2 linked regions of the Homo sapiens genome follow. The protein of the gene in region 1 purifies or fractionates together with the protein of each later gene. This does not show direct contact. Each region holds a gene or a part of one and is shown on either strand. Other genes may lie near its edges. The genes, in order: TAMM41 and MIX23.

Region 1 (2,802 bases):
TCATTCTGATCTGTTGGTTCTTAGCCTTTTGCAAGTCCAGGATCCCTGTGAAAATCTGACTAGAACTCTGGACGCCCTGCACAGAAGTGCACCTACGCACACACACAGTAGATTTTCCTGCAGTGTTAGGGAGTTCACAGACACTCAGACTTAATCTGTGGACCCCTTGTTAGAGAACCCCTCATCTATTCCAACCCAGTCATTTTACAGATAAGGAAATTGAGGCCCAGGGAAAGGCCACTGTTAGTTTGTGGCCCACCTGGAACTAGAGTCCAGGTCTCTTGACTCCGATTCTAGTGCTCTTTCTAACAGATTTCCCTGCTGCAGTCTTTCTGAAAATGTCTCACTGGCAGAACCATGAAAGGGAGAATGTTTTAGTCAAGGGAGATTTCTGTCCACTAGCAGCAACAAAAAAAAAAAATGGCTACATGGTGACACTCTTCTACTTTATGTATTTACCTTAAATGTTTAAGATCCAGGAACTGCTTTTTGAAGTTGAGCTGGGAATTATCATGGCCCATGCATCCTCCTCTAGCTGTGACTCAGTGCCCTGGGGTTGCTATATGAACCTTTCCATGTATAACTACCTGTATTCGGCTTGGTCTTTTGGTTGGTTCTGGCTGGAATTTTAAAAACCACCTTATATAATAAGCTTCTAGTCTCAATGCTGAAGTGGGTGGGGTTTACCAGAGTGGTTGCTCCAGGGAGAAAATTAAAAGGGGTGGAGGCAGGGAAAGGAACTCTGAGTTTGTTGACTAGGTTATGTTGGTTTGCAAGTAGTCAGCTGGTAGACAAACGAAGCCAGAGTGTCTGGAAGTATTCATTAATGATTTTACTGCTCCCCTGCCACTGTCTGCAGTGGTCTTTTCCAAGGCTCTAAGTGGACTAAGCAGTTTACAGGTAACAGGGCCAGATATTTTCAAGCCATCACTCAAACCCCAGTGCTAGGCATGTCCAGAGCGAAACCTGTTACCTTGTCGGCATGCTCACCAAAGTGCACTGCCAGGGGTGTGCACTTTACACTCATAGCACAGATCACAGTTTGTGTCTCACAGTGAAAAAGACTGTTCATATCTTTGGGCCACACCCTGAAACACAAACTGAATGATCCCACCCTCAACACAAAGGAAGTTGAGTCCATAATCGCATCCACAGATAGGATACTCTTAGATCTGACAAATAACACCCATTTATTTTATTCCCTTTTTCTTCTTTCCCCTAAGCCCCCGGAGAGCCTTTCTCCAGTTTCATCACACACTCCTGACTAAGTAGATGGGGGTGCTAGGGGGCCAGCTCTCCGAATGAGGCACATTTGTCTTGTCATTTCAAAAGCTTTCACAGAGCACCTGCTGTGTTCTGGGTCCTGTACTAGGTGACAGGGCCACCTAGGTGAACAGGGCAAGGTCCCTGTCCTCAGGAAGCTCCCAGTCCAGGCAGAGGCGTGGGTGAATCGGCCCACACGTACTGCACAGTGTGTTGAGTGAGCACAGATGCTGTGGGGCCACCCTGTGGGTCCAGGGAAGCACTTCCTAGAGAAGAAATCCAAACAGGGATTCCAAGTCAACGAGGCAGAAAGTGATGGGAACAGCATTTGTCATAGTCAGACAGGTGCCTTTCACAGTGACATAGAGACAGTGAGGTGGGGTTGGAATTTAGGCCTGAGAGAACGGGGACCCAGTGGCATACAGAGTCTTATCCTTGTCCTACCTTTTTGAAAGAGCTAAATTCAGAGGCTGCCAATATGTTCATAACTCAAAAGGATCACTTATCCCAATAACTTAGGAACCGTTGGCATCCATAGCCCTAAATCGGAAAATGCCGAAATCAGAATCATTTCCCCCTACATTGATCACAGTGACCTTTAATCACCTTCAGCTCCCTGGTCTCCTAGAGCCACGGGTCAGCCCCTCACTGCCCTCCTCCAAAGACAAGTCTGCTCAGAATGTCACTGAAACTCTGAGCATCCACTCAACAAGCCTCCATCTTCTTACTTTCTCATCTTTTCTCTTTTAGGCCTGAAGAAGTCAGTGATTTATAGTTCACTAAAACTGCACAAAATGTGGAAAGGGTGGCTGAGGAAAACATCCTGATTTTGCTTGCTTTTATATATGTTATGTGTAGATGAATAAAGTGTTTGATCCTTTTTGACAGAACAGTGTTTGTTACTTTGACCCATTGCTTGAATTCAAAGATACCCTGGTTTGCATAATACTTGGTTTTTTAAATGTATGCATCAGACATTTATCCAGTTGGGACCCAAATATATTAGAGGGCTTAGCATCAGAAGAAAAGAACCCTCTCCATGTACAAAGTCATGTGGGTCCTGCAGAATAGCTTTGCCTGTCCTGCATTCTGTAGGTACGTGAGAGTCAGACATGACAAATTTCTTGTATGCTGTCAACACGTAGCCCAGGAAACTTACAGGGTGTGGAAGCTTGACTTTCTCTGCCTGGCTTGTTATGTCTCTAGTCTCCATCCTGTTCACTTGTTTTTTTTCCAGCAGGGGCTCGCAAGTGTCACGTCAACATTTCCCTGGATCTAGGCTTTTCGTGTGTTTCTTTGTTCTCCACTAAAGTGTATGGCAGTGACTTTTGGGTTAGGAGCCTGGAACAGACACCTTGCAGAGCCTGCCTTATTGTAACAGTTAGGACGTGTTTGGGCAACAGGAAACCCACTGCAGAGTGCCTTGAACAACAAAGGACAGAATCATGTACCCCAGTTTCTCTCCATCTCTCTGCCCTCTGCAGTGTTAGCATCGTGCTGAGGCTGGCTTTGCTCTGTCATGAGACTGCTGGCAGCAGC
Region 2 (3,830 bases), about 110 Mb from region 1:
AGGTAATTTTTCACCCCCCACCTTCCTCCTTACCCTTGCCCTTTGGAGTCCCCAATGTCTATTCTTTCCATCTTTATGTCTATATGTACCCATTGTTTAGCTACCATTTATAAGCAAGCACATTTGGTATTTGATTTTCTGTTTTGAGTTATTTCACTTAATGGCCTCCAGCTCCATCCATGTTGCTGCAAAGGACATGATTTCATAATTTTTCTTCTTTTTTTGGAGACTTGGAGACAGAGTTTCGTTCTTGTTTCCCAGGCTGGAGTGCAATGGTGCAATCTTGGTTCACTGCAACCTCCACCTCCTGGGTTCAAGCTATTCTCCTGCCTCAGAGTCCCAAATAGTTAGGATTACAGGCACCTACCACCACACCCAGCTATTTTTTTGTATTTTTAGTAGAGATGGGGTTTCACCGTGTTGTCCAAGCTGGTCTTGAACTCCTGACCTCAGGTGATCCACCCACCTCAGCCTCCCAAAGTGCTGGATTACAGACGTGAGCCACCATGCCTGGATGATTTCATTCTTTTCTGTGGCTGCATGGTATTCTATATATATGTGTGTGTATACGTACACCATATTTTCTTTATCCAGTCAACTGTTGATGGACACTTAGCTTGCTGCTGTGAATAGTGCTGTGATCAACATATAAGTACAGGTGTCTTTTTTTTTTTTTTTTTTTTTTTGAGACGGAGTCTCTCTCTGCTGCCCAGGCAGGCTGGAATGCAGTGGCACGATCTCGGCTCACTGCAACCTCTGCCTCCCTTGTTCAAGTGATTTTCCTGCCTCAGCCTCCCCAAGTAGCTGGGATTACAGGTGCGCGCCACCATGCCAGTCTAATTTTTGTATTTTTAGTAGAGATGGGGTTTCACCATGTTGGTCAGGCTGATCTCGAACTCCTGACCTCATGATCCACCCACCTTGGCCTCCCAAAGTCAGGCGTGAGCCACTGCGCCCATCCTCTAGGTGTGTTTTTTATATAATGATTTATTTTCCTTTGGGTAAGTACCCAGTAGTGGGACTGCTGGGTCAAATGGTAGTTCTGTTGTTGGTTCTCTGAGAAGTCTCCACATATTCCATAGAGGTTGTACTAATTTACATTTCTGTCAACAGTGTATAAGCGTTCCCTTTTCTCTGCATGCTTACCAATATCTGTTGCCACAACAAAACTTTAAAAAAAAGTTTTATTATACAAGATTTTAAACATAACACAAAAGAAGGCTGTACCACAAACACTCATGTACCCATCCCCCAACTCCAACAACTAACTAATTCATGGCTACTCTTGTTTCATCTGTTCGCTACTACCACATATCCCACCCTAATCCGATCATTTTGAGGTCATCCCAAATACCATATCATTTTTTTCTGTAAAATTTCTGTCTATATCTCCAAAAGATTACAACTTTCTAACACCATACTATTGCCACATACAGACAATGAACAGTAATCACCAGATAGCCTGAGTCAGAATACAACTCTTGATGTTCCTACTCTTTCCAAGTCTCTTCCTTCCCCAGTCTCCCCCACCATAAGTTAATGGCACTTCCATACAATTAGATGCTTAGGCCCCAAGCCTGGAAGTCATGCTATTTTATTTTCTCGTCCCTGACCACCAATTCAGCAATTTCTGTTAGCTCTATCTTCAAAATATATCCTAAGTCCAACTACCTCTCCTTAATTCTACTGCTACCAGTTTTTTTGTTTGTTTGTTTGTTTTAGACAGAGTCTCGCTGTGTTGCCCAGGCTGGAGTGCAGTGGTGCAATCATGGCTCACCAGTGCCTCAACCTCCTCAGCTCAAGCAATCCTCCTACCTTGCCTCAGCCTCTCAAATTGCTGGGATTACAGGCATGAGCCACCACCCCCAGCCCAGATGTTCCTATCGTTGGTTCAATCATGTCATTTAGATTTTAGCGCAAATGTTACATCCTCAGAAAAGCCTTTTTTGATGTCTATCTGAAGTAGCCCCCAAGCACCACTCAGTCACTCTTCATCTCATCACCTTAGTTTGTTTTCTTTTTCATAGTACTTTTTAGTATCTGAGATTATCTTGTTTATAGGACACTTGTTTAATTTCTATCTCCCCCTTCAGGAATTTTGCTCTGTAAGAGCAAGGACCTCTTTTATTCGCTACTGTAGCCTTGATGTTTTGAATGGTGCCTGACACATGCTAGACATAGGACAGTTGGCCCTCCCATATCTATGGGTTTTACATCCATGGATTCAATCAACCGTGGATCGAAGATAGTTGAAAAAAAAGTTGCATCCATACTGAACATGTACAGACATTTTTCTTGTTATCATACCCTACACAATACAGTGTAACTAACACCTATTTACATAGCATTTATATTGTATTAGATATAAGTAATCTAGAGATTATTTAAAGTATATGGAAGGATGTGCATAGGTTATATACAAATATTGTGCCATTTTATATCAGGGACTTGAGCATCCTTGGATTTTGTTAACCATAGGAGGACCTGGAACCAAACCCCCATGGATACTAAGGGATGACAGTAATTATATGAAGAATGAGTTAATAAATAATGAGCTCTGTGATACTGTCTCTTACTGCTGCATTATTTAAAGACAAATATTGCTGAGGGCTTTCATAACCAAGGAAACCTCTATCCAAAAGGCACAACTTAACCCTTGGCCTCAGAAGATCAGTTCAGTTTAGATAGCGAAAAGGAAGGTTTTGAAAGAGAATTTAAAGAGGCTTTTTTTTTAAAAAAAAAAAAAAAAATAGGCCAGTCATAGGAGGTAAAGTGGCAAGGTAGGTCCCTGTCTTCTACTTACCTATTTTTTTTTTTGGACTTCCCAAATAGTACTGCCATCATTTGTTTGGAATTTACCACTTAAGCACAATACATATATCCTTCACTATGTGTGGTGGTTGCCCAATGAATGCATTGAGATTATTCCTTAAGAATTCCAGTTTACAGAGAATACTATTAAAAAAATAGAAAGATACAGGACGAGAAGATAATGAACTTGGTTTTAGACCTGATATTTGCTAGTGTTTTATTAGTCTGAATTATGAGCCTTCTGCAAGCCGTTTCACTTCTAGATTGAGGTATAGAAAAGGCCATTAAATTCACTAATTAAAAATTAGTGGAATGATAGAACAGAATCTAGACTACAGACTTAGATTGAATGGGCTAAATGGTTTATAATTGGAAACAACCTAAATGTTTGTTAATGAGAAAGTGGCCAAATGAGTTGTGCTTGAACAGGATAGAATACTTAAACGCAACTATTTAAAATATCTTCAGGGCTGGGTGCGGTGGCTTTTGCCTGTAATCCCAGCACTTTGGGAGGCTGAGGCCGGTGGATCGCTTGAGTCCAGGAGTTCAAGACCAGCCTGGGCCATGTGGTGAAACCCTCTCTCTACAAAAATATACAAAAAAATTAGCAAGGTGTATTGCACATGCCTGTGGTTGCAGCTATTTGAGGGGCTGAGGTGGGAGGATCACCTGAGCCCAGGAGGCAGAGGTTACAGTGAGCCAAGATCGCGCCACTGCACTCCAGCCTGAGCAACAGAGTGAGACCCTGTCTCAAAAAAAAAAAAACTTTCAAGACATTTCTAGCAACATTATATTATGCTCATAATATAATGTCTTGAAGCCAGATTTTAAAATGTTACATAGTACCTCAGTTGTATAAAAACATTAATAGGTATGTGTAGAAAAAAGACCAAAGGGACATATTAAAATGTTGATAATGGTTAACTATGGATGATTTTTATTTAAAGTTTTTTTCTAACTTTTCTAAAATGAAAGTAATAATAATAATAATTTTTATTTTAACAAATGGACGAGGAAAG

Evidence for each region.
Region 2: the proteins of TAMM41 (region 1) and MIX23 purify together in Homo sapiens (co-immunoprecipitation; one large-scale study listed by IntAct). This does not show direct contact.

Annotation. Positions count from the first base shown.
Region 1 is NC_000003.12:11,789,793-11,792,594, reverse strand, and holds the end of TAMM41 (phosphatidate cytidylyltransferase, mitochondrial isoform a precursor), read left to right. Parts: intron 1-2,013; coding exon 2,014-2,090; 3' UTR 2,091-2,153; downstream 2,154-2,802. UniProt on the Homo sapiens protein: Catalyzes the conversion of phosphatidic acid (PA) to CDP-diacylglycerol (CDP-DAG), an essential intermediate in the synthesis of phosphatidylglycerol, cardiolipin and phosphatidylinositol.
Region 2 is NC_000003.12:122,373,023-122,376,852, reverse strand, and holds part of MIX23 (protein MIX23), read left to right. Parts: intron 1-3,830.